3 separate regions of the Homo sapiens genome follow, and all the other regions are linked to region 1. The links come from fine-mapping of genetic effects on gene expression. A gene starts in region 1. Each other region holds a variant in brackets. All regions are shown on one strand. Distances are from middle to middle.

Region 1 (8,176 bases):
AACATGGGCAGAATTTGAGAGCGATATCCATGTGTTCTGCATGGACCAAATATCTCTCTTCCAAAAAACTGTATCCCTGGGTTGAAGAGAGAAAGCAGGGACCATTCCTATGTTGGGAAAATGGGGGCTCAAAAAAAGGTCACGCACAAGGCAGGGGAGCTGAAAATAGAACGCAGGAGGCCTTTAGCTACCTCCCAGTGTAGCGCTCAAGCCATCCCAGGCCTTCCAGGCAGAAGACAGGAGTTACAGTGTTGCTATAAAGAGACCAGAATGAGGGCAGGGAATCTAGGGAGGAAGAAGAGTCACTGCCAGTATCACGCACCATCCGAATCCAGCTAAGGCTCTCTACACAGCAGCGTGCTGCAGAGCGATGAGCTAATCAGTCCCCAAGGAATAACTCCTTCCTGTCCTGGACAGCTGGACCAAGGACAAACGCTCCTTCAGTTTAAAAAAAAAATGCTCCTGAGAACAGCAGTTGTTCCTGTGGTTATGGATGTATTCCAGAACTGTGCCTGTGCCACTGCTGAGCGCGTAGTTAACTCCTGCAGGGGCAGAGCAGGCTGGTTCTGGGTGGCAGAACGATGATTTCAGGACAACTGAAACTCCCAAGGACACATAACATGGACCACAACTAAGGAAGCCAGCACGAGGACAGGACTCAAGCTCAGAAAGCCTGCTGATCAGGTCAGGAGTTTGAGACTGGCCTGGACAACGCAAAAAGAAAAAAAAAAAATAGCCAGGCATGGACATGGTAGTGCACACCTGTAGTCCCAGCTACTCAAGAGGCTGAGGCAGGATGATTGCTTGAGCCCAGGAGGATGAGGCTGCAGTGAGCTGTGATGACGCTACTGCACTCCAGCCCGGATGACAGAGCAAGTCCCTGTCTCAATATTTTAAGTCAAGGGTCTGTAGTCATGTGTTCAACGCCACTTCTTGCCATCACTTTGCAATTATTGAAATGGGCATACTGAGCTCAGAAAGCAAATCTGATGCTTTCACGGGAGACAGAGCCACATTTGTGTTCTGGGTGGGATCACTAGTGCAGGAGAACACTACATCTTCTTCTGAAGGCAAAATGCTTGTAGGTTTTGCCTCTTTACTTTGCATTTACTTCTAAAATTGCACTTGTTCACCTACCAGTGTTTACGAAATCCTGTATTTGGGATGCTTTTTCTATAATAAAATATTATCATTTATGGGAAAAAAAAAAAAAGAAAGCCTGCTGATCTGTGATCTGGTAAACTCCAGCAGGGTGGAGATCCCTGAAGGTCGCCCCTAGACCCAGCGGTCATTTCCTAGAACATTCGGCCAATCCTCACCCAGTGCTGAATCTCCGCCACACTGGGCTGCATAGGTAGTTCCCAGGCCCGCCCACAAGGGGTCATAATAGCTGAGATGAGAGGGGAGGCCGCCAAACCAAAGCCTGTCAGTCACCCGCTCCCTCCTCAAGGCTTGGGTTGGAGTCTGCAAGACACTACCTCTGCTCTCACTCCTGTCCTATCGGCTTGGTTATCAGCCATCTAAGGAATCCACTTGGTATACAGCCAGCACTCCTGGCATCACATCCCTTTCCCTTGCCCCTTGGGGCCGGGCTCCTCTCAGACAGCCAAATCTTCATCCACAGAATGCACCGGGCCCGCCCCGCGGCCTCGCGGTCCTAGGGAGGGCCCATATCCCAGCTTCTCCCTGCTCAGTCCCCTGCTGGCTCTCCACTCTCCCTCCCCACTGGCGCTTTATACTGCCAAGATTCCCCTGTCAGCCCTGCTCTCCACCCTCACCCTAGTGAATTCCCTTCACTCTTTCTTTTCCCAGTTTGTTGACCTACTCAAGCAATGGCTTGAGGTCCCGGAGCTTTTCCTATGAAACCACAGCAGGTACCTGGTTTCCATCAATATTCTTTGGGAAACCTTGGGGTGTGAAAGAATCACTCGTTGCAAGGTACAGCCCCTCCCTCACCAGCCCCTTCCAGTTTCACTCAATTTAGTCTCCCAAATTTACGCTATATCCTTGCCTCCTACTTTTGAAGTTTATATCCCTAACCTGCCCCAGGGCTGAGACCGGTAGGGCAGAGCCCCAGTCCCTTTCACACCGCACAAAACCCGCAGTTAAGCCTGGATGGCAGAGACAAGCCGGAAAAGTAGGAATCCCCCCGTGTTCCGCTCCCAGCGTCCTTCTTCCTGTCACGAGCAGGGCTTCTGCATTCTCTGCGGATTCTAGTCTCCCTGCATCCAATTGCTTCCAAGCTCCTCATTACACAGCACAAACTTTACTCTCATTCTTTTCACCCCTGATTCTTCGGAACCCACACCAACTCGCGGCCCGTTGTGAGTGGTATGACACAGAGAGACCTGTCCCCCTTTCCCAATCCCTACCTCCGCTTGTACTCGTCCCGCTCCCGCTTCACTTTGGCCAGCACGTTGTAGAGAGCGCGGATCTCGGGCGTGATGGTGTCGATCTGGACGCCCACCCCATCCGGGTGCACCCACGACAAGCCAGGCCCTTGCACCAGAGTGGGCTCCAGTCCCGGCCCGAGCCGGCGGGCGTGCGAGAACGACCAGATGGTGCCGGGCATGAAGCGGGCCGACGAGGAATAGGTGGTGGAGGTGGAGGTGGAGGACGACGAGAGGCTGGCCGCGGAGGGCGCGAGGGGGCCGGCCGGGGAGCGCGCGGGCGAGCCCAGCACGCGCGCCGAAGGGCTGCAGACAGCGGCCGGCCGGGCGCCCAGCTGCAGCCCCAGGGGCCGGATGGGGCTGACGAAGCCGGTCTGCACTGCCTGGTCGCGACGACCCAGGCCCCGCCGGCCCTGCTTACCCTCCTCCAGCGCTTGCTGCAGTTGCTTCTCCAACAGCCGGTTCCGGCGCTCCAGCTCATGCACCTTGGCCAGGAAGCAGCGGAACCGGAGGTTCAGGGTCTTGAGCACGTTGATGTTGGAGCCCAGGTCATTGCGGAGGGCCATGGCGGCAGGCGGGGCCGGGCCCGGCCCGGGCGGCGAGTAGGCAGCAGGGCCGGCCGGCGAGAGAGGCGCCGGGGGCAAGTCTCCTCCCCCGGCGAAGTGGTCGCCTCCCAGTGAGTCCCCCAGTGGCCCGGCCAGGCCCTGCTGCTCCTGCTGCAGGAGGAAGAGGTTGGGGCCGAATAACGGATTCATGGCTGCGCCTTCTGCTGGGAGATGCAGACCGGTGCAGGAGCAGGGATGGAAGGCGAGCCAGAAGAGCCAATGCGGCGCCGGCGGGACAGAGCCGACCAATCAGGCGGCTCGGCAGCGGGGCAGAGGTCAGGGGGCGGGCCGAGGGGAAGCCAATGACAGGCTCCAATTGGAGGCCGGACCCTGGACCTTTCCGGGTCTGAGGCCGAGCCCTGTGATGAGGGGAGCCACCGCCTGGACTCCAGCCGGGGTGGCGTAAAGCCCAGGACCTCCAGTACCCCATGGGTTCTGGTGGCAAGCCCATCTCCCCTACACGACTTTTTTTTTTTTTGAGACCGAGTCTCACTGTCGCCCGGGCTGGAGTGCAGTGGCGCGATCTTGGCTCACTGCAACCTCAGCCTCCCAGGTTCAAGCGATTCTCCTGCTTCAGTCTCCCGAGTAGCTGGGATTACAGGCACCCGCCACCACACCCGGCTGATTTTTTGTATTTTTAGTAGAGACGAGGTTTCGCCATGTTAGCCAGGCTGGTCTCGAACACCTGACCTCAGGTGATCCACCCGCCTTGGCCTCCCAGAAAGTGCTGGGATTACAGGCATGAGCTAGTGTGCCCCGCCTTCCCCTACACTTCTATTGCCCTCCTCTCCCCGGAGTTCAATCACCCCTAGCTCTGACTCCAGGGCTTTCCCTTCCTGGGAAAACCCAAGGATGCAGGAGCCTAAAACTGACCTTATTTCTCAGTAGCACCCAACCATTCCCTCTCCTCAGAAGATCCCAGTCCCACCTCCCATCTTTACCCTTAAAGCGGCAAAGGCAGCACCCAGTTCCCTCAAAAATACTCAGTGGCCAGAGGTTTTAAAATGTGTATTAAATTTCATGGGTATGCACAGTAGAGAAGGCATCCTCACAGAGGCAAGAGTTCCAACCTGGTGACAATGGCAGTGAGCCACCCGTCTAGTTTTCAACCATCTAAGATAGCAGCAGCTGGCTGTTGCCCCTGGACTGAGATTTCTTCCTCTTTGCTGGTGGGGGGCGGCTGGAACGGATGGGAGACACAGTGGGAGGCTGAGGCCCCTTGGGGGTATCATTCTGTTTCTGGAAGGCAGCTTTCTCAAAAGGCTGCTCTGGCAACTGCTGCTTCTCAACCCCCTTGGCCCTTCCAAGGGGCTGATGATGGTCCTTAGGTTTCAGGGTGGCCTGAGTCTTGGATGGGGATAACACAGCCGGTGTTTGTGTGTCTGTGCCCTTGGGAGGGGCATTCTGCCTGAGGAAAGCAACTTTCTTGGAGGACTGTAATTTAGGTGATCGTTGCTTTAGCTTCCCAGTCACCTTTGGCTCCCTGATCCCTTCGGCTTTTCCAGCTGGCTGACTGCTATCCTGGAAGCTGGAGGAAGCTTGGGTCTTTGTGACAGAAGGTACAGTGGACAATTCTGAGTCTGCCCCTTTGGAGATGCCATTCAGCTTCTGGAAGGAGGCCTTCTTGGGATGTTGCTGTTTCTGCAGCTGCTGCTTTGTCTTTGCAGCCCCCTTGGCTTTCTTGGCTGGCTGGCTGCTGTTCTCAGACTTGGGGATGACCTGAGGCAAGTCTACATTTGTAGGTGTGGCTGTTTCAGAATTTCCTGGGGTTAAAATTAAACAGATGGTGTCAGAAAATGGGCCTTATCACCATATTTTAATATTCTCATATTAAAATATGAGAATTGCCATTTCCTGGGCAGGAGCTCCACACAATTAGGTCAGTGCCTAAGAGCAGATTACCTAAATTCCCATTACTTAATATAACTTGGCCTTTACTCAAGTCCTAGTTGAACCTTGTATTAAAAGATCACTGCCTATAGGCCAGGCGTGGTGGCTCACACCTGTAATTCCAGCACTTTGGGAGGCCAAGGCAAGTGGATTGCTTGAGGCCAGGAGTTCAAGACCAGCCTAGCCCACATGGTGAAACCATCTCTACTAAAAATACAAAAATTAGCCAGGGATGGTGGTACACACCTGTAATCCTAGCTACTTGGGAGTCTGAGGCACAAGAATCGCTTGAACCTGGAAGGTGGAGGTTGCAATGAGCTGAGATTGCACCACTGCAGTCCAGCCTGAGCGACAAAGCAAGACACCGTCTCAAAAAAAAAAAAAAAAAAAAAAAAATCACTGCCTATCCTTGGGCCAAAAGGTTTCTACAGGAAGCTGCGCCCTCTTGAGGACAGGAAGTAACAAGATGCTGTAAGGAAGAGGTGATTCTCAGGGTTTTGGGGTTTTTTTTTTCTTTTTTTGAGATGGAATCTCACTCTGTCACCCAGGCTGGAGTGCAGTGGTGTGATCTCGGCTCACTGCAACCTCTGCCTCCTGGGTTCAAGCAATTCTCCTGCCTCAGCCTCCGGACAATCACAACCGTGCGCCACCATGTCCGGCTAATTTTTGTATTTTTAGTAGAGATGAGGTTTCACCATGTTGACCAGCTGGTCTTGAACTCCTGACCTCAGGTGATCCACCTGCCTCAGCCACCCAAAGTGCTGGGGTTACAGGCGCGAGCCACCACGCCCGGCCTCGCAGGGTCTTCTAAATGAATTTGAAGCACTAGGCTTTATTTATCTTTTTTTTTTTTTTTTTGAGGTAGAGTCTCACTGTGTTGCCCAGGCTGGAGTACAGTGGTGCCATCATAGCTCACTGCAACCTCAAACTCCTGGGGCTCAAGGGATCCTCCTACCTCAGCCTCCAGAGTAGCTGGAACTACTGTCTCCCTTTGTTGCCCAGACAGGTCTCAAACTCGTGGTCTTAAGCAATCTTCCCACCTCAGCCTCCCAAAGTACTGGGATTTATAGGCATGAGCCATCACCACACCTGGCCTATTTATTTTTTAAATCAGAGAAGTTTCTTTCCATGTGAATTGTGATGAAGTGCGGGATAATTAAAATATGTACTTTTTAAGTTATAGCAAATTTTACTATTCCTTTTTTTTGAGATGGAGTTTTGCTCGTTGCCCAGGCTGAAATGCAATAGCGTGATCTCGGCTTACTGCAACCTCCACCTCCCAGGTTCAAGTGATTCTCCTGCCTCAGCCTCCTGAGTAGTTGGGACTACAGGCACGTACCACCACACCTAGCTAATTTTTTTTTTTGGAGACGGAGTCTCACTCTGTCGCCCAGGCTGGAGTGCAGTGGCACAATCTCAGCTCACTGCAAGCTCCGCCTCCCGGGTTCATGCCATTCTCCTGCCTCAGCCTCCCGAGTAGCTGGGACTACAGGCGCCCACCACCAAGCTCAGCTAATTTTTTATATTTTTAGTAGAGATGGGGGTTTCACTGTGTTAGCCAGGATGGTCTCGATCTCCTGACCTCGTGATCCACCCGTCTTGGCCTCCCAAAGTGCTGGGATTACAGGCGTGAGCCACCGTGCCTGGCCACACCCAGCTAATTCTTATATTTTTAGTAGAGACAGGGTTTCACCGTGTCGAATTCCTGACCTCAGGTGAGTGCTGGGATTACAGGCATGAGCCACCACGCCCAGACAAATTCTACTATTTCTAAAGTAGCACTTCTCTCCCTCTTCCAACTAAACCCAGGGTTATATCCCAGTAAGCAGTGCTCTCAAGGCTGTTTCAGAAAACCCCACCCTTCCCTTGAGATCCAGGCCAGACTCCTCAAGATGGCTGAGAAAACAATCTGCAATGAGTGTGAAGGGCTCAGAGAACTGCTGACAAAGCTCTGTGGAGCTCTGTTCCAACCCAGTGCTGAGATTGCTGGACCAGCAGAGGTCCAGTACCAGTAAGTCCACCCTGTGCCAAGAAGGAAAAGAAACCACAACCTGCATTTGGAATGCATTTAGTGCTGAACAACTGCAGCCACTTGGCAGAATAAAGGAACAGGCCTCCATCCATATGAACACTTTAGCCTGTTCACATGGGGTCCAGCACTCAAAAGCAATTCTAGCTGGAATGAGAGGGTTCTCTCAGCCAAGCATGCAAAGGCTGGAGTAAGGGATGCATGAATCTTTCCTTTCCCTTCCTCTTGTCACACCATAAAGCCTCCTGAAAGGTGGAAAGAGCAAAGGTGGTGACGAAGGGAAGAAAAAGATTACTTACCTGTCTGGGACTGAGGGATAGAATTGGAAAATTTCTTGAACTTGGCAATGAAGAACCCATCCATATTGTGGGTATGAGGGTAGAAGCGTCGGGTAGAACGCAGACTGGGGTGGAAGCGCCTTTCTCGAAAGCGGGTAAAACCTTCCTGGCCAAAGTCTAGGCCCGTGGGCACCAGTCGCACATTCCTCTTTTTCAGAGCATAGTCTACCACCCACTCATTCTCTTCTACCTGGATGTGGGGGGAAGACAAAGAACGGAGGAAAAAGCAGAGCTGGAGCTGAAGGGAGCTCTAAGGGGCAAAGAGCCCCCCAGCCCAGCCTCCCCTGCTCTGCCATGGCAGAGGTCTCACTGTGATAGAACAGGTGCAGTAAACCAGGTAGCCTCCTGTCTTGGAGGTCGCATTGACAGAGTCAATAGCACTCAGGAGCAACTCCTTCTGGAGGTGAGCACAGCGCAGGATGTCCTTCTCATCCTGTCCCAAAAAGAGACCCAAAGGCAGCCTCAGGAGGAGAGGGGAGCCCAGAGGGTGTCCCCATCTCAGTTTCCAGCTCTACGAGACCCAGCCAAGGCCTCTCAGGGGCCCACCACCTGACTCCTCACCTTGTTAGTCTTCACGGCTGGATCCTTGGAGATGACCCCAGTGCCACTGCAGGGAGCATCCAGCAGTACTCGGTCAAAGCCCCCCACCACCTGGAGAAAAGATACAGATGAATCATATGTCTCTTCTGCAACCAGCAGGGCAATATTTACTAGGGTCGAGTCTAAACATTGAGGTCAGGAAGGGAGAAGGTCAACCGGAAGAAGCCTCAGAAGACACACAGCTCGAGTCTCACCTTGGGGAACTGGCGCCCATCATAGTGGCTGATAATGGTGTTGGTGACTCCCAGCCGATGCAAGTTGCCCACAACACTCTTGAGCCGCTCAGCATTGGCGTCATTGGCAAGGATCACACCCGTGTTCTTC
Region 2 (8,176 bases), 75 kb after region 1:
TTGCAAACAAGATTTCAATAACAGTTTACACTATGATTACAGTATCACTTGATCATTCTTTTCTTTTTCTTTTTTCTTTTTTTTTTTGAGACAGAGTCTTGCTCTGTCGTCCGGGCTGGAGTGCAGTGGCTCAATCTGGGCTCACTGCAAGCTCTGCCTCCCGGGTTCACGCCATTCTCCTGCCTCAGCCTCCCGAGTAGCTGGGACTACAGGCACCTGCCACCTCACCCGGCTAATTTTTTGTATTTTTAGTAGAGCTGGGGTTTCACTGTATTAGCCAGGATGGTCTCTATCTCCTGACCTCGTGATCTGCCCGCCTTGGCCTCTCAAAGAGCTGGGATTACAGGCGTGAGCCACCGCGCCAGGCCCACTTGATCATTCTTAACCATTACTTGGAGAACCAGTAGATCCTTCCAATTAGAAAGCATATACTAGACACTGAATGAGTGGATGGATGATTTTCAAAGAACCTCAAGTCTGTCTTTCTTTCTTTCCTTCCTTCCTTCCTTCCTTTTCTTTTTTGAGATGGAGTTTCGCATGCTCTGTCACCCAGGCTGCAGTGAAGTGGCAGAATCTCGGCTCACTGCAACCTCCGCCTCCCGGGTTCAAGTGATTCTCCTGCTTCAGCCTCCTGAATAGCTGAGATTACAGGCGCTCACCACCACGCCCAGCTAATTTCTTTTTTTTTTTTTTTTTTGAGATGGAGTTTCACTTTTGTTGCCCAGACTGGAGTGCAATGGCACGATCTCCGCTCACCGCAACCTCTGCCTCCCAGGTTCAAGCGATTCTCCTGCCTCAGCCTCCTTAGTAGCTGGGATTACAGGCATGTGCCACCACGCCCAGCTAATTTTGTATTTTTAGTAGAGATGGGGTTTCTCCATGTTGGTCAGGCTGGTCTCGAACTCCCAACCTCAGGTGATCTGCCCGCCTCAGCCTCCAAAAAATGCTGGGATTACAGGCGTGAACCACCATGCCCGGCCAATTTCTGTATTTTTAGTAGAGAAGACTGGGTTTCACTATGTTGGCCAGGCTGGTCTCGAACTCCTGACCTCAGGTAATCCGCCTGCCTTGGCCTCCCAAAGTGCTGGGATTACACTGTGCCTGGCTGATCTCAAGTCTTTCTGTTGAAAAAGTTACAATGTACCGGGCACGGTGGCTCACGCCTGTAATCCCAGCACTTTGGGAGGCCGAGGTGGGCGGATTACCTGAGGTCAGGAGTTCGAGACCAGCCTGGCCAACATGGTGAAACCTCATCTCTACTGAAAATACAAAAATTAGCCAGGGGTGGTGGCACACGCCTGTAATCCCAGCTACTCGGGAAGCTGAGGCAGGAGAATTGCTTGAGCCCGGGAGACGGAGGTTGCAGTGAGCCGAGATCGTGCCACTGCACTCCAGCCTGGCCAACAGAGCGAGACTCTGTCTCAAAAAAAAAAAAAAAAGGGCCAAGCGCGGTGGCTTACACCTGTAATCCCAGCACTTTGGGAGGCCAAGGTGGGTGCATCATGAGGTCAGGAGACCAAGACCATCCTAGCTAACATGGTGAAAGCCCATCTCTACTAAAAATACAAAATATTAGCCGAGCTTGGTGGCACCTGCCTGTAATCCCAGCTACTCGGGAGGCTGAGGCAGGAGAATCGCTTGAACCCGGGAGGCAGAGGTTGCAGTGAGCCGAGATTGCGCCACTGCACTCCAGCCTAGATGGCAGAGTGAGACTCCGTCAAAAAAAAAAAAAAATTAAAATGTTAAATAGACCAAGATTATTAGTTGAGCGGCTACTTAAAGGTAAAGTTAGGCGAAGTGATGGCTCACACCTGTAATCCCAGCACTTTGGGAGGCTGAGGCGGGCGGATCACCTGAGGTCAGGCATTCAAAACCAGCCTGGTCAACATAGTGAAAACCCCATCTCTACTAAAAATACAAAAATTAGCCAGGCATGGTGGCGGCATCTGTAATCCCAGCTACTCGGGAGGCTGAGGCAGGAGAATCCCTTGAACCCAGGAGGCGGAAGTTGCAGTGAGCTGAGATCGCGCCACTGCACTCCAGCCTGGGTGACAAGAGTGAAACTCTGTCTCAAAAAACATAAATAAATAAATGTAAAGGTATAGCTAGGAATTTTTTAGCAAAGGAAATGGCGATGCTCTCTTGTTACTCTATTCCAAAGGGGAGAAGTTCTTGGGTTTCTTTTTTTTTTGGATACAGTCTCACTTCGTTTGGAGGCTGGAGTGCAGTATCACAATCTTGGCTCACTGCAACCTCCGCCTCCTGGGTTCAAGCAATTCTCGTGCCTCAGCCACCCAAGTAGCTGGGATCATAGCTCGCACCACCACACCTGCCTAATTTTTTGTGTTTTCAGTAGAAATGGGGTTTCACCATGTTGGTCAGGCTAGGCTGGTCTCCTGACCTCAAGTGATCTGCAGACCTCGGCTTCCCAAAGTGCTGGGTGCTGGAATTACAAGAGTGAACCACTGCACCCAGCCCATCTTTTTTTTTTTTTTTTTTTTTTTTTTTTTTTTTTTTTTTGAGACGGAGTCTCCCCGTTGCCCAGGCTGGAGTGCAGTGGTACAGTCTCAGCTCACTGCAACCTTTTCCTCCCAGGTTCAAGCAATTCTCTTGTCTCAGCCTCCTGAGTAGCTGGGACTACAGGTGCACGCCACCATGCCTGGCTAATTTTTGTATTTTTAGTAGAGACAGGTTTCACCATATTGGTCAGGCTGGTATTGAACTCCTGACCTGAGTTGATCCACCCGGCTCGGCCTCCCAAAGTGCTGAGATTATAGGCATGAGCCACCGCACCTGGCCCCAGCCCATCTTTATAAAGGATCCTGGTGGTCAAAAAGCCGCCTCTTTCTGACAGTCACACAGAACGGCCCAAGCTGAGCACTGAGAGCTGCCAGGCCCCTGGCCTGGTCCCCATCCCACACTTCTGCTTCCCGAGCCCTGGGGCTCCCTTCAGGAGCTGAATGGGCACAGTGCCAGGCCAGATGGCGAAGATGGAAAAAACTGCCAAAAAGGAGGCTAACAGGATGTGGAAGGAGGGAATCTAGGTGTTGGGGAGGGGCAGCCCAGACCCTCTCCCCCAATCCTGCCTTGAAGAAGAGGTCAGGCTGTAGGAGAGATGCAGGAATCAAAGAAATGGCAGCTGCCCCAGAAAAGAAGGAACACCAGGAAGGAGGGACATGGAGGCCCCCATAGGCTGAAGAACGTCGGCACACACTGATGTCAGGTAAGTATACCACTCATTACACGTGTGTGCACAGACACATATACACACACGCTAAGAGATGTGCACACAAGACCCCTAGTAACATAGAACTCAGTGTCTATACACATCCTGTAATAAACACGTATGTGCATAGACAACTGGGCTGGGGAGGAAGAGAAAGAAGGCCCTGCCTTAGGGACAGTATCCTTACACAGACAGAACCAGGCAGCTTCACAAGCATGGGAGATCTCAACCCCAAGGCACTGAGGAGCAAAGTGACCACGACACACACAGAGGGTCCGGGACTGCTCCTTCTATATCACCCACCCCAACACCGCTCACACACCAGAATGTGTGCAGCCACCTTCCTTCTCCCTGGGTCTCCGTCCTTCAGCTTCCCATGTACACATCCGGGGGCCAGGTTACTTACCTCCTCAGGGCCTCTGGGATCTGTCCCATTTGCCCTCTGAGCTGGGCTGGGCACTGCTCTTTGCTGAGATAAGCCAGAGGGGCAGGGCTATTTTATGCCAGAGGCAGGAAGTGAGAACAAGAGTGTAAAAGTGAGCAGGAGGTGCAATCATGATCATTCCCTCACTCTCCTCCACACACCCTGCCCTGGTATCCAGCCTCTTGGGCAAATGACGTTGAGGGGAGCTGAAGAGAAAGGACCAGGGGGCTGGGAACAATGAGAAGGGCAGGGGCAGGGGAATGCCTCCTCTTTGCCCAGTTCCTCCCCCATACCCTTCCTGTGTTGCCCACCTCCCCGCAAACACCACATGCCTTGCTCTGTCTTTTGCCTCCTTTCTTTCTTTCCGTTTTTTTTTCTTTTGTTTTTGAGACGGAGTCTCGCACTGTCGCCTGAGCTGGAGTGCAACGGTGCAATCTCAGCTCACTGCAACCTCTGCCTCCCGGATTCACGCGATTCTCCTGCCTCAGCCCCCTGAGTAGCTGGGATTACAGGCGCACACCACCACACCCGGCTAATTTTTTGTATTTTTCGTAGAGACGGGGTTTCACTATATTGGCCAGACTGGTCTTGAACTCCTGACCTTGTGATCTGCCTGCCTCGGCCACCCAAAGTGCTGGAATTACAGGCGTGAGCCACTGGACCCGGCCTGCCTCCTCTTTCAAATAATTCACATCCTGGGTCCCCTGACTCCAATTCCTAGGGTCAGAGGTCTGAAAAGAAGGTTCTTACATCTCCCCATCCTCCTTGCCCCTGAGAATCAGCTCTGGAATAGCCCCACCCTCATTTTAGAGTCTCGTGGCCCATCAGTGTCTCAGCCCCGACACAGGAAGTCCCTCTTTAGTATGTACTCTAACCCACTCGCTGAATTAGCGAAGCCTACTTCCTCTGCTTCTGTGTTCAGGCAGCGCTGGGAGGATGCACCCTTTCCCCACAGACAGGCTTCATCATGAAGACTCAGTATCTCTGTATCCAGGCCCTCCAAACAGACCCCAGCTGTGCTGAGCCTCCAGCAGAAGCTTAGCTCAG[T/C]CCAAAGCCTTTGTGAAAAGCTCTGTCCCAGAGCTGTTTTGAGGGCACAAATGAATCCTTTTCTTCCGCTTATCCTGGTCCTGAGGGGCAGGGATGAGATGGAAGACTAAATGGAACAGGAGGATGAATCCTCATCCTCAAGGTTTGGAGACAGTACAAAGTCCCCAGGGTGGGCGGGGAGGCCTCCTTCTGCCCAGGGGCCACATTCTTCCTCAGAGAGGAGTCTCTGGCACGGATCCCGGGTGTCAGGTCGTGTCTTCCCTCCTCCCTGGCCCAGGCCTGCCTGCTTCTCCAGCCAGAATTCCTGCTCCTGCCTTTCCCCACCCTTCTCTGCTGAAGCCTGTCTTTTCCTGCATTTCCAGCATCATCCTCGGCCCTGGCTTCTCCCTCCCTGAGTACTCTGACCTCATCCCTCCTGACATTTGTCTGGGAAAAGGCAGAAAGCAAAGGTGGTCTACAGCTCAATAACTAGTTTCCCTGATGTGCGGATATCACCTTGCCATTGTGCCTCTCCCTTTACCCTGCTTTCGAGAGCTGGAAAAGCAAGAAAGTCAGTCCCAAGAGAAGCCACGGAGGCAGGCCCAGCCCCCTGACCTGTGTCCTGAGGTGGTCTGTGTGCATCTGACCCTTGCTTGTAGCCTGGCAGGTCCTGCTTCCTCAGGGAAATCCACCAGAGCCTGTGGGCTTTGCTGACCTCACCTGACTTTAGAGTGCACTGGCTTCAGCCCTCACTGCTCTTGCCGGTTCCTTCTCCTGGGTTTTGTTTTTTTTTTTTCTGAGATGGAGTCTCGCTTGCTGTGTTACCTAGGCTGGAGTACAGTGGTGCAATCTCAGCTCACTGCAACCTCCGCCTCCCGGGTTCACGCAATTCTCCTGCCTCAGTCTCCCGAGTAGCTGAGACTACAGGCGCCCGCCACCACGCCTGGCTAATTTTTGTATTTTTAGTAGAGATGGGTTTTCACTGTGTTGGCCAGGCTGGTCTTGAATGCCTGACCTCAGGTGATCTGCCCTCCTCAGCCTCCCAAAGTGCTGGGATTACAGGCGTGAGCCACTGTGCCCGGCCATTCTCCTGGGCTTTTTAAAATGCCCCTGGGCATAAAAGATCTCTGTCAGTAGGTATGTCCTGGGGTATGCACTGGGGGCAGCAGAGTAGGGAGAGCAGATGGCATCAGACAGATGGAGTTGGGCTCTAGTGCCTCTGAGTGGCTGGGTGGTGAGTCCTGTACATACTGCATGTGAGTAAGTTTCTGTCTCACCTCAATCCCTGCCTCCATGTCCCACTGGGTCTACAACTTTAGCTCACCCTAAAAGGAGGATTTCTGCCAGCCTGGGCAGCATAGTGGGACCCCATCTCTACAAAAAATATTTTTTTTTTGAGATAGAGTCTCGCTCTGTTGCCAGGCTTGAGTGCAGTGGTGTGATCTCAGCTCACTGCAACCTCCGCCTCCCGGGTTCAAGGGATTCTCCTGCCTCAGCCTCCCGAGCAGCTGGGACTATAGGTGCGTGCCACCGTGCCCAACTAATTTTTGTCTTTTCAGTAGAGACGGGGGTTTCACCATGTTGCCTGGGATGGTCTCGATCTCTTGACCTTGTGATCTGCCCGCCTTGGCCTCCCAAAGTGCTGGGATTACAGGTGTGAGCCACCACGCTCCGCTCTACAAAAAAATTTCAAAAAACTAACAGAGGCCGAGTGTGTGACTCGCGCCTGTAATCCCAGCACTTTGGGAGGCAGAGGCGAATGGATCACTTTAGCGCGAGTTCAAGACCAGCCTGGGCAACATGGTGAAACCCTGTCTCTACACAAACACACACACACCCAAAAAAAATACAAAAAGTAGCTGGTTGTGGTGGCTCAAGCCTATATTTCCAGCTATTCTGGAGGCTGAGGCAGGATAATAGCTTGAACCCAGGAGGCGGAGTTTGCAGTGAGTCTAGATCATGCCACTGCACTTTAGCCTAGACGACAGAGCGAGACCCCATCTCAAAAAAAAAAAAAATTAGCCGGGCATGGTGGTGCCTGCCTGTAGTCCCAGGTACTCGGGAGGCTGAAGTGGGAGGATTGCTTGAACCCAGGAGTTTGAGGCTGCAGTGAGCCATGTTCATGCCACTGCACTCCAGCCTGGGCAACAGAGTGAGATCCTGTCTTGAAAAAAAAAATGGCTGGGCACCGTGGCTTATGCCTGTAATCCCAGCACTTTGGGAGGCCGAGGCAGGTGGATCATGAGGTCAGGAGTTCAAGACCAGCCTGGCCAAGATGGTAAAACCCTGTCTCTACTAAAAATGCAAAAATTAGCCGGGCATGGTGGTGCGTACCTATAATCCCAGCTACTCAGGAGGCTGAGGCAGAGAATTGCTTGAACCCAGGAGGCGGAGGTTGCAGTGAGCTGAGAGCGTGCCACTGCACTCCAGCCTGGGTGACAAAGGGAGACTCTGTCTCAAAAAAAAAAAAAAGAAAGGAAGGAAGGAAGAGAGAAAAAAAGGAGTAGTTCTGGAGATACAATCTGGTGGAGGTCCCCTTCTTGTCATGGGGGCCCCACAACCACAGGGAAGAGGTAGGCCCCATCCTCATGGTGTGATGTGAAGGTATCATAAAGCCCTGCTGACCTCCGAATATGTCCCCCACCTCCAAAATTCCATCCCCTGAAGCCACCATCTATCAGAGCCATAGGGACATCAAAGACCATCAGTCTAATCCCCTTATATAGATGCACCTTTTGGGTTAAGGCAGCACTTCCTGAAGACCCCATTACAGTACACCTTGGCTAGTTGGGAAGGATAACACTGAGAACACATCTCTGCCAGTCAACCCATTAGCAAGTTTGATTAGATCAGCTCATTGTCATCTGCCTGGCCCTGGGGGATGTGTGGTGTAGGGGTTGAGGTTTAACTGCGAGTGGAAAAAGTGTGTAAACAGTCCCCAGAGGGCCCTCCCTGGGAGGCCCAAGGCTCAGTTCCACAGTGGGGGCCTAGAGGGGGAGGGGGAGGACACAGCCTCTGCGAGATGCCCCAGAGTGGGGGCTTCAAGCATCAAAGAGGAGCACTCCCGAGGTGTAGCAGGCATGTTAGCTGTTTGTCCAGCGCCATCTGAAAAGATCTGTCTATTTGAGGCAGCTCCTTTCGGCTTTTTACTCTGTTCAGAAGGGTTTTCCAGGGCCCATGCCCACCCTCTTCTCTGTCCCCCACCCAAATCTCCCATTTCTACAGGGGGGTGCTCCCCTTGTGCTCCCTGTGCAGTTCAATTCGTGACACCCCCATACCTGTGCTCCGTGTTGCTCTGCGCTGCCCCAAGCTGGCTTCCGCTGCCTGCTCTGGGCTGGGCTGGGCTGGGCTGGGCTGGTAGGACCTGCTCCCAGGGCGGGAGGGGACACACCCACCTCAGCAGATCTCAGCCCATCCCTCCCAGCTCAGTGCACTCACCCAACCCCACACGGGCCAAGGAGAGAGTGAAGAGGAAGCATTGCCCTCAGAGGCCTTCACGG
Region 3 (8,176 bases), 54 kb before region 1:
TCAGTTTCCCAAGCAGCTGGGACTACAGGTAAGTGCCACCACGCCTGGCTAATTCTTGGGGGGTTTTTTTGTTGTTCTGGAGACGGAGTTTTGCTCTGTCGCCCAGGTTGGAGTGCAGTGGCAAGGTATCGGCTCACTGCACCCTCCACCTCACAGGTTCAAGCAATTCTCCTGCTTCAGCCTCCCAAGTGGCTGGAATTACAGGTGCCCACCACCACATCCAGCTAATTTTTTTTGTATTTTTTAGTAGAGCTGGGGTTTCACCATGTTGGCCAGGCTGGTCTCGAACTCCTGACCTCAGGTGATCTGCCCAACTTGGCCTCCCAAAGTTCTGGGATTATAGGCGTGAGCTACTGTGCCCAGCCTATTTCTGGAATATTTCATTTAATATTTTCAGACTTGAGATTGACCACGGGTAACTGAAACCCCAGAAAGTGAGAACACAGATTGGTGAGGACCACTGTGTGTAAGATGGTTGTAAGAGCCAAAGAGAAAAATAAAGAAGACAGTGTGGCCAGGCGCAGTGGCTCACACCTGTAATCCTAGCACTTTGGGAAGCCAAGGTGGTTGGATTGCTCAAGCTCAGGGGTTTGAGACCAGCCTGGCCAACATGGTGAAACCCCATCTCTACCAAAATTACAAAAAAGTTAGCCAGGCGTGGTGGTGCACACCTGTAGTTCCAGCTACTTGGGAGGCTGGGGTGGGAGAATTGCTTGAGCCCAGGAGGCAGGGGCTGCAGTGAGCCATGATCATGCCACTGCACTGCAACCTGGCCACAGAGCTAGACCCTGTTTCAAAAAAGAAAAAAAAAGAAGTGTACTGGGAATGGTGGCTTGTCCCTGTAATCCCAACCACTTGGGAGGCAGAAGCAGGATTGTTAAGGCCAGGAGTTCAAGACCAGCTTGGGCAACATAGTCTCTAAAATTAATTATACAAAGCTTAAAAATAAATAATATAAAGAAGAAGATAGTAGGACCTGTCATTTCATGTTGGATCATCAGAGAAGGCTTGCTGTTACGTCACGTTTGAGCAGAGACCTTAAGAAAGTAAGGAAATAAACTATGCAGATTGTTAGGGAAGAGCATTCCAAGCAAACAGAAAAGCCTATGCAAAGGCCTTGAGGTGGGCAAATGCCAATAGAGTTGGAGTGCATTAAGCTAGGAAAAAGAGATTAGGTAGGAAGTGGTACAGATTATTCTAGAATCTTGCTCCTCAAAATGTGGTCCTCAGATCAGCAGTGTTAATATCAGGATCTCATGATCTGGGAGCTTATTAGAAATGCAGGATGTCAAGGCCCAGGATGTCAAAGCTGCTGAATCAGGAAATCTGTATTTTAAGAAGATTCCCCCAGGCAATTTGGATGCAATTATAAGCTTGAGAAGCACTGATCTCTAGAGCCTCGTAGATCATGGCAAAAACTTGAACTTCAGTGTGAATGAACTTGAAAGCCATTGGGTTTTGAGCATGGGAGTGACATGGTCTGACATTTTAAAAGATTCACTGGCGACTGTGTTGAGCAGAGACTATAAGAGGCAAGGAGAGAAGCAGGGATACTAGTTAAGTGGCTAATACAGTAATACCAAGTAGATTGGACTGGAGGGATAGCAGGGGAAGTGGTGATAAAACGACTCAGGATATATTTTCAAAGTAGAGCTTTTACAGGAATGCTGATGGATTGGATTGGATTATAGGGTTAGTAAAGGAATCTGAGATGAGAATGATTACAAGGCTTTTTTTTTTTTTTTTTGACAGTCTTGCTCTGTTGGCTCTGTCACCCAGGTTGGCGTGCAGTGGCGTGATCTTGGCTCGCTGCAACCTCTGCCTCCCAGGTTCAAGCAATTCTCATGCCTCAGCCACCTGAGTATCTAGGATTACAGGTGTGCACCACCACGCCTGGCTAATTTTTTTTTTTTTTTTTTTTTTTTTTTTTTTTAGGCAGAGTCTCGCTCTCTCGCCCAGGCTGGAGTGCAGTGGCACCATCTCGGTTCACTGCAAGCTCCGCCTCCCAGGGTCACGACACCTGGCTAATTTTTGTATTTTTAGTAGAGATGCGGTTTTGCCGTGTTGTCCAGTCTGGTCTTGAACTTCTGGCCTCAAGTGATCTGCCTGCCTCGGCCTCCCAAAATGTTGGGATTACAGGCGTGGGCCACCACACCCGGCCTTACAAGGCTTTTTGACTTGAGCAACTAGAAGAATGAAGTTGCCATTTACTGAGATGGGGTAGCATATGGGAGGGAGAGGTTTAGATTGTTGGTTATGTGAGTGCAGAGTTCAAGGGAGAGGTTGTCAGCTAAAGATACACATTTAGGATTTAATACTCAGCGTGTAGACAGCACTTAAAGCCATGAGATTGCAGTGAGTGTAGATGGAGAAGAGCAGCAGTTTGAAGACCAAGACCTGAGACAGTCCAGCATTTAGAGGCTAGGAGGATGAAGAAGAACCAGTAGAAGAAATTAAGAAGCAGTCATTGGGGCAGAAAGCGAATGAAGGAGCTAAATGGACGCTAAATAAAGAGAGTGTTTCAAAAACAAAAGAGAGGTCAACTGCAGATTAACTACTGGATTTATTGATGTCATAGTCACTGGTAACCTTGACAAAGCTGTTTCAGGAGATGGTGGGGGCAAAAGCCTGCTAGGAATAGGTTTTTAAGAAAATGGAATGACAGAGATTAGAGATGATGAATTTACATAATGTATTTCTTTTAAGATGGGCAGCATTATGTGTGTCTATATTGAGTAGGAATGATCAGAGAGGGAAAAGCTGATGCTGCAGAAGGAAGAGGGAACAGTTGTTGGAGCAGTGCCTTTAGTAGGTAAGAGAGTACGTGATCTGGTACACGGGGAGGAGATGGCTTTATCAGAACATGGACAGTTTATCCACAGTAGCAAAAAAAAAAGGCAGAGTGTATGTATGGGCATAGATGCAACTAGTGCAGGTAAATATAGAGCTTGGGGCAGTTGAAAGTTCTCTTCTGTCTGCTTCTGTTTCCTCAATAGGAAGGGAAAGCCTTTAACTGAGAGTGAGTTTGGGAAGAAGGTCATGGTGTTATGAGCAGAGGATAGGTGTGAAATAATTGCCTAGAAGAAAACGAATAGACTTGGGAGTACGAATGCCCACTTCAGGTTAGTAGTCATGAGTTTAACGTAAGACTAGTCAGCTTGTTTCTGTGTTTTTCTCAGGCCATTTTTATTTGTGTGGTCACATGAATGGAGTAACCAGAAAGTTGGTTTAACCTAGATTTGCCAGGGGAGTATGTGTTGTTGTTGTTGTTAATTAGTGGAATAAGTTACAAGTATCACAGTATCTAACAATAGGGGAATAGTAAATTAAGATAGATATAAGGCCGAGTGTGGTGGCACTGCCTGTAGTCCCAGCTACTCAGAAGGCTGGGGCAGGAGGATCGCTTGAACCCAGAAGTTTGAGGCTGCAGTAAGCTATGATCCTGCACTGCACTTCGGCCTGCGCAACACAACAAACCCTGTCTCAAAAAAAATTGTTTACAAAGGTGTTTTTGTTGTTGTTGTTGTTGTTGCTTTTTTTTTGAGACGGAGTCTCACTCTGTCACCCAGGCTGGAATACAGTGGCACTATCTCGGCTCACTGCAACCTCCTCAGTTCAAGCGATTCTCCTGCCTCAGCCTCCTGAGCAGCTGGGATTACAGGCGCATGCCACCACACCTGGCTTTTTTTTTTTTTTTTTTTTTGTATTTTTATTAGAGACGGGGTTTCACCATGTTGGTCAGGCTGGTCTCGAACTCCTGACCTGATGATCCACCTGCCTCAGCCTACAAAGTGTTGGGATTACAGGCGTGAGCCACCACGTCTGGCCTACAAAGGTTTCTAATACACTTACTGTAATGCTAAATTTTAAAAAGCATGACAGAGAAGTG[A/T]ATATGTGATACAAGCTCAACAATGGAAATACGATGTATAGAAAATGGACTGAGAAAAATATGCTGTTATAACTGAATGCCTGAGACTGGATATTTATAATGAAAGAAATTTATTGGCTCACATTTTTTTCTGGAGACTGGGAAGTCCCAAATCAATGCACCAGTAACTGGCAAGGGCCTTCTTGCTGCATTGTCACAGGGCAGAAGGCAGAAGGGCACAAGTGAACCCACTCCCCAGAGCCCTTTTTATAATAGTATGAATATATCGGTGAGGGGTTGGGCACGGTGGCTCACACCTGTAATCCCAGCACTTTGGGAGGCCGAGGCGGGCAGATCACAAGGTCAGGAGTTCGAGACCAGCCTGGCCAATATGGTGAAACCCCGTCTCTACTAAAAATACAAAAAATTAGCCGGGTGTGGTGACGCGTGCCTGTAATCCCAGCTACTCAGGAGGCTGAGGCGGGAGAATCACTTGAACCTGGGAGCCGGAGGTTGTAGTGAGCCGAGATCGTGCCACTGCACTTCAGCCTGGGTGACAGAGCGAGACTCCATCTATTTTTTTTTTTTTTTTAAAAAAGATGGTGAAACCCCGTCTCTACTAAAAAATAGAAAAATTAGCTAGGTGTGGTGGCAGGCACCTGTAATCCCAGCTACTCGGGAGGCTGAGGCACTGAATTGCTTGAACCCAGGAGGCAGAGGTTGCAGTGAGCTAACATCATGCCACTGCACTCCAGCCTGGGCGACAGAGCGAGACTCCGTCTCAAAAATATGTATATATATTTGTGAGGGTGGAGCCCTCATAACCTAAACACCTCCCATTAGACTCCACCTTCCAACACTGTCATGTTGGGGATTATATTTCCAACACATGAATTATGAGGGGCACATTCAAACCATACAGCGTGCTAAGTGTTGTTCTGACTGGTTTGCATGGACTATCTCATTCAGTTTTGACATATATATATACATATATATATATATATATATATATATATATATATAGATATAGATATATATATATATATATACCATTGGTCCTTGAACAACGTGGGGGTTAGGGATGACAACCCCTGTGCAGTCAAAAATCTGCATATGTAAGTTTTGACTGCCCCAAAACTTAAACACTTATAGCCTACTGTTGACCAGAAGCCTTACAAGTAACATAACAGTTTTTTTATTTTGTTTTGTTTTGTTTTTGACAGAGTCTTGCTCTGTGGCCCAGGATGGAGTGTGGTGGCGCGATCTCGGCTCACTGCAACCTCCACCTGCTGGGTTCAAGTGATTTTCCGGCCTTAGCCTCCCAAGTAGCTGAGACTACAGGCATGCAATATTGCACCTGGCTAATTTTGTATTTTTAGTAGAGATGGGGTTTCACCATGTTGGCCAGGCTGGTCTCAATCTCCTGACCTCAAGTGATCTGTCCACCTCGGCCTCCCAAAGTGCTGGGATTACAGGTGTGAGCCACCGCGTCGAGCCTTAATACATATGTTTTTTATGTTATGTATATTATTTACTATATTTTTGCAGTCAAGCTAGAGGAAATGTTATTAAGAAAATCATAAGGAAAATACATGTTCAGTATTGTGCTGTATTTATCGACACCATAAGTTTACATGATGAATCATGTAAAATGGCAGGCAACCACAGCTGCAGACCTCCGTCCATGGTACCATATGAAGCAATTTGGCTTTTCTTGTAATGTCATGACTCTTTTCTGCTTCTTGGGAACACTTCCAGCATCACTAGTGGCACTTCATTATGGGTCCCATGGTGTTATGTAAGGTTTATGATACTGCTTTAGACACATGAAAAATACCTGAGGAACCACAGGAGATCACTTCTTGCTGCCATATGCAATTTTTGTTTTGAGACAGAGTTTCACTCTTGTTGCCCAGGCTGGAGTGCAGTGGCATGATCTCGACTCACTGGAACCTCCGCCTCCCCGGGTTCAAGCGATTCTCCTGCCTAAGCCTCCCAAGTAGCTGGGATTACAGGCATGCACCACCATGCCTGGCTAATTTTGTATCTTTAGTAGAGACAGGGTTTCCCCATGTTGGTCAGGCTGGTCTCGAGCTCCTCACCTCAAGTGATTCACCCGCCTCGGTCTCCAAAGCGCTGGGATTTACAGGTGTGAGCCAGCGTGCCCGGTCTGCCATATGCAGTTTACTGGAGAGACGAACTGCTCACTGGAAGATGATTAACATCTCAGAGTTTTTAAGCAGATACTTGCAACATTTGAGCTCACCATAGTATCGACAAGAGGCGGCTATGAAATTATTACAGTACTACAGTGTGTACTGAAGTGAATTTTATGCAGTTATGATTTAATACTGCATCTTTAGGCCAGGTGTGGTGGCTCGCGCCTGTAATTCTAGCACTTTGGGAGGCCTAGGCAGGTGGATCACCTGAAATCAGGAGTTCAAGATCAGCCTGGCCAACACGGTAAAACCCTGTCTCTACTAAAAATTCAAAAATTAGCCAGGTGTGGTAAATATAAAAATTAGCCGGGTGTGGTGGCATGCATCTGTAGTCCCAGCTCCCAGGGTGACTGAGGTGGGAGGATCGCTGGAACCTGGGAGGCAGAAGTTGCAGTGAGCTGAGATTGTGTCACTACACTCTAGCCTGGGTGACAGCAAGAACCTGTCTCAGAAAAACAAAAACAAATAATATTGCATCTTTATATTTATTTCCGTTTCTCTTGGGCTGTGAATGATGTCATGTACTGTCTGTGTTTGTGTGTGAGGTTTTTTGGTGTTTTTTTTTTACATGGGGTCTCACTGTCACCCAGCCTGGAGTGCAGTAGTGTGATCACAGCTCACTGCAGCCTCAGCTTCCTAGGCTCAAGCAATCCTCCCGCCTCAGCCTCCAGAACAGCTAGGACTACAGGTGCACCCCACTGTGCTCAGCTAATTTTTTATTTTTTGTGGAGATGGGGTCTTGCCATGTTGCCCAAGCTGGTCTTGAGCTCCTGACCTCAAGTGATCCTCCTGCCTCAGCCTCTCAAAGTGGTGGGGTTACAAGTGTGAACTATCACATCCAGCCTGCATCAAGTTTTGATAAGTTTTAACTTTATAATAGACATATATATTTGGCCGGGCACGGTGGCTCAACCCCTGTAATCCCAGCACTTCAGGAGGCCAAAGTGGGCGGATCACGAGGTCAGGAGATCGAGACCATCCTGGCTAACACCGTGAAACCCCGTCTCTACTAAAAAAGTACAAAAAATTAGCCGGGCATGGTGGCGGGCGCCGGTAGTCCCAGCTACTCGGGAGGCTGAGGCAGGAGAGTGGCGTGAACCCAGGAGGCAGAGCTTGCAGTGAGCCGAGATCGCACCACTGCACTCCAGCCTGGGCGACAGAGAGAGATTCCGTCTCAAGAAAAAAAAAAAAGACATATATATTTTATGGTAGTAAATGATAAAATAGACTAGGATCTACATAAATTTTATGCGTTCATGACATATGTAGCTTTAAAAAAAAATTAGCCAGATATGGTAGAGCATACCTGTTGTTCTAGCTACTCAGGAGGCTGAGGCAGCCCGATTGCTTGAGCCCAGGAATTTAAGGCTGCAGTAAGCTGTGATTGTGCCATTGCACTCCAGCCTGGGAGACAGAGTGAGACTTTGTCTCAAAAGAAAGAAAGAAAAAATTCCAGTATATTTACTGAAAAAAATTAGCATATTAGTGGACCTACACAATTCAAATCGTATTGTTCGAAGATTAATTGTAGACATACATAGGTGCCTTACTTTTCTCCAGTGAGAGGGCCTAAAGGCAGTAATACTCTAATAGAAATGAGTGCAAGTAATGCCTAGAATTTGGCTTCTACATACCATTATTCCGTAATAGCCAGGATTCCACCAAGAATGGTTGATTACAGGACTGGGCCAGGGAAAATACAAGATGAGCCCAGAACATCTTTTATTTTATTTATTTATTTATTTTTGAGATGGTGCCTCACCATGTTGCCCAGGCGGATCTTGAACTCCTGGGCCCAAGCGATTCTACTGCCTCCACCTCCCAAAGTGCTGGGATTACAGGCTTGAGCCCAGCCCATCTCATGATACAAGACAGTCAGGGAACAAAAATGAAGGGAGGCTGGGTGCAGTGGCCCATGCCTTTAATCCGAGTACTTTGGGAGTGTTGGGAATAACACTCAAAATCCTAAGGAAAATGAACATTCAAACAAAGGATTCTTAGGAAAGCAATTTTACTTCTCTGCAGAGGGGTGCCTCTCCTTGGCCAGTCGCCGTGAAAGCACACCTGAACAAAGGGGCACGAGAGCCTT

The links. PIP is the estimated chance that this variant, and not a neighbour inherited with it, causes the effect.
Region 2: its variant is fine-mapped to the expression of IFFO1 in whole blood (INTERVAL, PIP 0.99).
Region 3: its variant is fine-mapped to the expression of IFFO1 in whole blood (TOPMed, PIP above 0.99).

Annotation. Positions count from the first base shown.
Region 1 is chr12:6,552,885-6,561,060 of GRCh38, forward strand. IFFO1 (intermediate filament family orphan 1) reads right to left here and starts at 3,158. Exons shown (of 10, transcript NM_001193457.2): 1 at 2,373-3,158. The coding sequence starts at 3,145. NOP2 (NOP2 nucleolar protein) reads right to left here. Exons shown (of 16, transcript NM_001258308.2): 12 at 8,047-8,176; 13 at 7,814-7,903; 14 at 7,563-7,685; 15 at 7,214-7,442; 16 at 3,987-4,758. The coding sequence ends at 4,109. RefSeq lists enhancers at 1,134-1,634, 1,635-2,135 and silencers at 2,596-2,775, 2,886-3,125, 3,176-3,335.
Region 2 is chr12:6,627,953-6,636,128 of GRCh38, forward strand. LPAR5 (lysophosphatidic acid receptor 5) reads right to left here and starts at 8,007. Exons shown (of 2, transcript NM_020400.6): 1 at 7,955-8,007. RefSeq lists enhancers at 4,049-4,098, 4,949-5,008 and a silencer at 5,924-5,973. The variant T/C (reference allele first, on the strand shown) is at 4,698.
Region 3 is chr12:6,499,327-6,507,502 of GRCh38, forward strand. The region is part of intron 2 of NCAPD2 (non-SMC condensin I complex subunit D2); the gene reads left to right. Among named protein-coding and RNA genes, the nearest start is that of NCAPD2, 9.3 kb to the left of the region's middle. The variant A/T (reference allele first, on the strand shown) is at 3,890.